2 linked regions of the Homo sapiens genome follow. The protein of the gene in region 1 interacts with the protein of each later gene in a pairwise test. Each region holds a gene or a part of one and is shown in the gene's direction. Other genes may lie near its edges.

Evidence for each region. The genes of interacting proteins can lie anywhere in the genome.
Region 2: the proteins of TAB1 (region 1) and MAPKAPK5 interact in a two-hybrid assay, tested with the Homo sapiens proteins (one large-scale study listed by BioGRID and IntAct).

The regions. Positions count from the first base shown.
Region 1 is NC_000022.11:39,406,159-39,409,809, forward strand, and holds part of TAB1 (TGF-beta-activated kinase 1 and MAP3K7-binding protein 1), read left to right. Parts: intron 1-3,651. UniProt on the Homo sapiens protein: Key adapter protein that plays an essential role in JNK and NF-kappa-B activation and proinflammatory cytokines production in response to stimulation with TLRs and cytokines.
Region 2 is NC_000012.12:111,848,628-111,852,278, forward strand, and holds part of MAPKAPK5 (MAP kinase-activated protein kinase 5), read left to right. Parts: intron 1-3,651. UniProt on the Homo sapiens protein: Tumor suppressor serine/threonine-protein kinase involved in mTORC1 signaling and post-transcriptional regulation. Phosphorylates FOXO3, ERK3/MAPK6, ERK4/MAPK4, HSP27/HSPB1, p53/TP53 and RHEB.

The DNA.
Region 1 (3,651 bases):
GGAGGCCAAGGCGTGTGGATCACAAGGTCAGGAGTTCAAGACCAGCCTGGCCAAGATGGTGAAACCACGTCTCTACTAAAAATACAAAAAATTAGCCGGGCATGGTGGCACGCACCTGTAATCCCAGCTACTCCAGAGGCTGAGGCAGAGAATTGCTTAAACCTGGAGGGGCAGAGCTTGCAGTGAGCCAAGATCGCGCCACTGCACTCCAGCCTGGGCGACAGAGTGAGACTGTCACCAAAAAAAAAAAAAAAAAAAAAGGAATCATTTGAGTGAAAGATAGTTTCTTGAAGATGGTCAGTGGATGATTGAGGTTTGGGAATCATGGGCCTCTGGCCCTAGTTGGATTTGAGCAGTGCCTTTAGGGTAGATAGGACTTAAAAAGACAGAAAGGGACAGGCTTTGCCTTACCATGGGTACTTTTACATATGCTCTTTGGGTAATTTTTTTCTTACTCTTTCTTTATTTTTTTTTAATTTATTTTTTATTTTTGAGACGGAGTCTTGCTGTGTCGCCCAGGCTGGAGTGCAGTGGCGCCATCTCGGCTCACTGCAAGCTCTGCCTCCCGGGTTCACACCATTCTCCTGCCTCCGCCTCTGGAGTAGCTGGGACTACAGGCACCCACCACCACGCCCACCTAATTTTTTTGTATTTTTAGTAGAGACGGGGTTTCACCGTGTTAGCCAGGATGGTCTCAATCTCTTGACCTCATGATCTGCCCGCCTTGGCCTCCCAAAGTGCTGGGATTACAGGCGTGAGCCACTGCGCCCGGCCTCTGGTCACAGTTTTTTAGAGATTGTTTGGAACAGTGAGTAGAAGGCCTTGTCTGTACAAGATACACAGCTGAGTGAGATTGTTAATCTGTCAAAGGGCAAAATTCAAAACTTTCGACAGTCTGGAAGGCTGGGATGAATGCATTAAGATGTAATTCGACTGATATAAATTTAGATTTAAAACAACCTTCTATAGTAGTTTGGCTGGGGGAGACAGACATGGTAGAAACTCACAGGAAAAGGACTTTGTTATTTTACATTACATAGAGGCTAGATGCTCATCTTCTCTTGGGTATATGAAAGCTGTTGATTTGCATACTTTGATTTTCTATCCTGCCGCCTAACTGATTTCTTTTTCTGTTTGCATTAGTTTTTCATTGATTCTTTAGGGTTGCCAGGCGTACTGTCCTATCAACTGCAAATAGAAATGACTTCTTTCCCGGTTTTTATGCTCTCATTCTTTACTCTGTCTAACTGCCTGGGCTAACACCTCCAGTTCTGTGTGAAGTAATAGAGTGGGCAGCCTTGCTATGGCCCTGATCATTTGTTGTTGTTTTGTTTTTTTTTTTTGAGAGGGAGCCTCACTCTGTCTCCCAGGCTGGAGTGCAGTGGCGTGATCTCGGCTCACTGCACGCTCTGCCTCCCGGGTTCCAGCGATTCTCCTTCCTCAGCTTCCCGATAGTAGATGGGACTACAGGCGTCTGCCACCACGCCCGGCTAATTTTTTGTATTTTTAGTAGAGACGGGGTTTTGCTGTGTTAGCCAGGATGGTCTCGATCTCCTGACCTCGTGATTCGCCGGTCTCGGCCTCCTAAAGTGCTCAGATTGCAGGTGTGAGCCACCGTGCCCAGCCTAATTTTTTGTATTTTTAGTAGAGACGGGTTTTCACCATGTTAGCCAGGATGGTCTCAATCTCTTGACCTCGTGATCTGCCCGCCTCAGCCTCCCAAGGTGCTGGGATTACAGATGTGGGCCACCATGCCCAGCCCTATGGCCCTGATCTTAATGAAGTGTTCCCCACTGAGTAAGTTGCCAGCATTAGGGCTGAAGTATACAGAGTAGCATGTTCAGAAAGGAGCCATCAGTTTCTGTTTTCTGGAGTGTTTTTACCAAGAATGGACCAAGACTCCTTAGATAAACAATAGCACTAGTGTCCATACTTACTGACCCAAACACCATTTGCCAGTTTATAAAATAATAAATTCCAGAAATATTACTGCCTCAACATTATGAAAATCAGATTTCCTAAAAAAGTACTTAGCAGTGTTGAAATATCTAGACACTATTCACGGGTACTTAATGAACAAGGCACGTGCTCAGTAGATTGATTGCCGTCAGACACACAGTTTTTCTCATTTGGGAAAGTTAGTTATTCCCACATCAGCCAAATACAGCACAGCATACAGTGGTCAGTAGATCATCAGCTTACTCCTGGTCTCCTGTTGTGAAACGCTCTCAGATGAATTGTTCTTGTGCCATGACACACCAACGTGGCAAGTTCCTCAGTTGCCTGTTTGAGCTTGTTTCTTTCTTTACTTGTGGAAGACAATTTCACTGGCGTTTTTTGTTTTTGTTTTTGTTTTTTGAGACGGAGTCTCGCTCTGTCATCCAGGCTGGAGTGCAGTGGCGTGTGCGATCTCGGCTCTCTGCAACCTCCACCTCCTGGGTTCAAGCAATTCTTCTGCCTCAGCCTTCCGAGTAGCTGAGACTACAGGCGCTTGCCACCACACCCGGTTAATTTTTGTATTTTTAGTAGAGACAGGGTTTCACCATATTGGCCAGGCTGGTCTTGAACTCCTGACTTGGTGATCCACCCACCTCGGCCTCCCAAAGTGCTGGGATTACAGGATTGATCCACCGTGCCTGGCCTCACTGGCCTTTTTTAATAGTGTATGTCTAATGTGGAACAGACCCATAAGTTGCTTGGGTCTTATTTATTTGGCTGGGAAACTATGGATTTTTTTAGAAAGATTCAAGTCCTTGGAAGCCTGTGTCTGTCCCTTATGGGAATTAGATACTGGCAGAGGAGGTAACTGTGATTACAGCATCGAAGACAGGTTTTGCATTGTGGTGACACATTTGTGTTAATATTATTCATCTCATATGAGAGGATGAGTTCATCTTAATCTCATTTTTAATCACAGCCTTCTAGAAAATAGAAATATCTTTTCCTCCCATGCTTTAAAACACCTGTGGCACTTTGGGGTGCTAAATATTGACTTCTTTGGCCATCTTTTCAGGAGGAAGACATGGGATACTCCTGACTGGGTAGATGCTTTTGTATTTCTGCTTAACCTCATAATTAATTTCATTCCAGCTGGTGGCAGGAGACAGACTAGAAAAGGAGCTACCTTTGGAAGTATATTTGCCTGGTTATAGGAGACTTTTGTGAGCTCGCTGGAAATGAAAATATACTAAGCAGATCTAAGACATAGGGGATAATTGGCAACATTTATCAGTTACCTGAAGAATACTTAATTCACTGGTTATTAACTCATTCCCATGGCCCAGAGGCCTTGCACTGCCCTCCCCCCCAGGCACATACGTGCACACATATTTGCAAACACGGCATGGAGCGTCTTTCCCCTGTGCTCACTAGAGAGGCCACACCAGCCTTCTCGTGCTTCCGTAAACCTGACATGCTTTTTTCCATCTTAGGGTCTTTTTACGTTCCGCTCCCTCTGCCTGGAAGCCTCCTTCTCTGCCTTCTAGAAGGTCACTGCCCCATAGTCATTCAGGTCTGGCTCAGACGTCACCTCCCCAGAGAGGTCTGCTTTTCTGACCACTTCATCTAGAGGCCCCCACCGCCCATCACGCTGTGTCCCATTACCATGGTGTGTTTTCTTCCTAGCACGTAGCGCTGTCTGAGATTGCCTTA
Region 2 (3,651 bases), on another chromosome or scaffold:
GTCTTGAACTCCTGACCTCAGGTGATTGCCCACCTTGGCCTCCAAAATGCTAGGATTATAGGCATGAGCCACTGTGCTCGGCCTCTTTTTGCCCGTTTTAGAATTGCTTTTTTTTGTTTTGAGATGGAGTCTCGCTTTGTCACTCAGGCTGGAATGCAGTGGTACGACCTTGGCTCACTGCAACCTCTTCCTCCGGGGTTCAAGCGATTCTCCTGCCTCAGCCTCCTAAGTAGCTGGGATTACAGGCATGCGCCACCATGCCCAGCTAATTTTTTGTATTTGTATTTTTATTTTTTTATTTATTTTTTGTATTTTTAGTAGAGATGAGGTCTTCACCATGTTGACCAGGTGGTCTCGTACTTCTGACCTCAAGTGATCCGCCTGCCTTGGCCTCCCAAAGTGCTGGGATTACAGATGTGAACCACCATGCCCAGCCTAAAATTGATTTCTTTGCCTTATTGAGTTATAGGATTATTTATTTATTTTTTTATTAATTTTTTTAGAGATGGGGTCTCACAATGTTGCCCAGGCTGGTCTTGAACTCCTGGGCTCAAGCGATCTGCCTGCCTCAGCCTCCTGAAGTGCTAGGATTACTGCACCTGGCCAAGAGTTCTTTTTTTTTTCTTTCTTTTTTTTTTTTCTGAGACAAAGTCTTGCTGCTCTTGTTGCCTAGGCTGGAGTGCAATGGCACGATCTTGGCTCACTGCAACCTCCACCTCCCGGGTTCAAGTGATTCTCCTGCCTCAGCCTCCCAAGTAGCTGGGATTATGGGCATCCACCACCATGCCTAGCTAATTTTTGTATTTTTAGTAGAGACTAAAAATTTTAGTTTTGCCATGTTGGCCAGGCTTGTCTTAAACTCCTGACCTTGTGATCTGCCTGCCTCGGCCTCCCAAAGTGCTGGGATTGCAGGCGTCAGCCACCGCACCTGGCCTAGAGTTCTTTATAAACTGAATAAAAGTCATTTATCAGCTATGTGATTGGCAAATATTTTCTCCCAGTCTGTGGCTTATCTTTTCATTTTATAATGGTGTCTTTTGAAGAGCAAAAGGTTTTAAATTTTATGAAGTCCAGTTTAGCACATTTTTTTCTTTTTCTTTTATTTTGTTAGGACAGTCTCACTCCATCACCCAGGCTGGAGTGTAGTGATGCGATCACAGTTCGCTGCAGCCATGTCCTTCTAGGCTTAAGTGATTCTCCCTCCTCAGCCTCCTGAGTAGCTGGGACCACAGGTGTCTACCACCATGTTTGGCTAATTAAAATAACTTTTTTTTTTGTAGAGACACGGGTCCCACTGTGTAGCCCAGGCTGGTCTCCAGCTCTTGAGCTCAAGCAGTCGTCACACTTTGGCCTTCCAAAGTGCTAGAATTATAGGCATGAACCACCACGACTGGTTGTGAAATATCCTTTTTTTTTTCATAGATGGAGACTTGCTCTGTTGACCAGGCTGGAGTGTAGTGGCGTGATCTTGGCTCACTGCAACCTCTGCCTCCCAGGTTCAAGCAGTTCTCCTGCCTTAGCCTCCCAAGTAGCTGGGATTACAGGTGGGTGCCACCATGCCCGCCTAATTTTTGTCTTTTTAATAGAGACGGGGTTTCACCATGTTGGCCAGGCTGGTCTCGAACTCCTGACCTTGTGATCTGCCTGCATCGGCCTCCCAAAGTGCTGGGATTACAGGCATGAGCAACTGTGCCTGGCCAAAATACCTTTTTATTTCATATTGAAGATGCAGCTTTTACGTGGGTGCGAGAGTGCTATAAGAAAGGCATAACTATAGACTCTAATATTTTTCGAGAAAAAGTCATTGTGTCTTAAAAGGAAGGTAAAGGATCTAAAGTTGGAGAATTTAATGCCAGCAAAGGATGGTTTGATAACTGTAGAGAGGTTTGGCTTAAAAAAATGTCAGGGTAACAGGAGAAGCAGCTTCTGCTGACCAAGAGGCGGCAAACAAGTTCCCAGATGCCATTAAGAAAATCATTGAGGAGAAAGGATATCTGCTTGAATGGGTTTTTAATGCAGACAAAAATGCCCTGTTCTGGGGAAAACAATGCCACAAAGGACATTTATGAGTAAGGAAGAGCAGTGAGTGCCAGGATTTAAGGCAGGAAGAGCTAGGTTAACTGCCGTTTTGTGTAAACACAGTCAAGTTTATGATCAGGACTACCCTGGTCTATAAAGCTGCTAACCTCTGAGCCTTCAAGGGAGAAGATAAAACACCAGCTGCCAGTCTGTTTTTACCAAAAGAAAGCCTGGATAATGAGAACCCATTTTCTTTTTTTTTTTTTTTTTTGAGAGGAGTCTCGCTCTGTGGCCCAGGCTGGAGTGCAGTGGCACGATCGCGGCTCACTGCAAGCTCTGCCTCCTGGGTTCACACCATTCTCCTGCCTCAGCCTCCCGAGTAGCTGGGATTATAGTTGCCTGCCACCACGCCCAGCTAATTTTTGTATTTTAGTAGAGACAGGGTTTCAGCATGTTGGCCAGGCTGGTCTTGAACTCCTAACCTCAAGTGATCCGCCTGCCTCGGCCTCCCAAAGTGCTGGGATTACAGGCATGAGCCACCGTGCCCGGCCAGGACTGCCTTTTAAAGTTTTTTTGACACAATGCCCCTGGCCACTGAGAATCCCATGAGTTCAACACTAGGCTTTGAAGTGGTCTACTTGTCCACAAACAGTGTCTCTAATCCAGCCTGTAGATCAGGAGGTCTCAAGGACTTTTTGAGAAAGAGTCTGGCTCTGTTGTCCAGGTTGGAGTGCAGTGGGGTGATCTCAGCTCACTTCAACCTCTGCCTCCCAGGTTCAAGCAATTCTCATGCCTCAGCCTCTCGAGAAGCTGGAATTACAGGCATGCTCCACAATGCCTGGCTAATTTTTGTATTTTTAGGAGAGATGAGGTTTCACCATTTTGCCCAGGTTGGTCTCGAACTCCTGGCCTCAAGTGATCTGCCTGCCTCAGCCTCCCAAAGTGCTGGGATTACAGGCTTCAGCTGCCGCACCTGGTCCAGGACTTTCAAGACTCATTACATGGGATACTCTGGAAAAGATTGTTAACACCAAGGAAGAGAATCCTGATAGAATGTAGTGAAAGTCTAGAGGGATTACACCACTGAAGATGCCATTGTTATGGAAAAAGCTGTGGAAGCCATCAGGCCTGAAACAATAAATTCCTGGTGGAGAAAACTCTGTCCAGATGTGCGTGACTTCATAGGATTTATGACAGAGCTGGTTAAGGAAATCATGAAAGAGATTGTGGATATGGCAAAAAAGGTGAAGGGTGAAGAGTTTTAAGGTACAGATCTTGGAGAAATTCAAGAGCTAATAGACACCACACCTGAGGAATTAATAGAAGATGACTTGATGGAGATGAGTGCTTCTGTGCCAGACAGTAAGGAATAAGATGTACAAGAAACAGGGGCAGGAAAAAATTGACATTAGACAATTTGCCAGAAGGGTTCCAATTATTCAAGACTTCCTTTAGCTTTGTTTATGGAATATGGAATGGAACCTTCTGTGATACTGGCACTGAAGTGAAAGCAAATGGTGGAAGAAGGATTAGTATTGTATAGAAATGTTTTTAGAGAAATGGAAAAGCAAAAAAGTCAGACAGAAATGAGGATGTATTTTTGTAATGTTACACCAGATGTGCCTGCCTCTC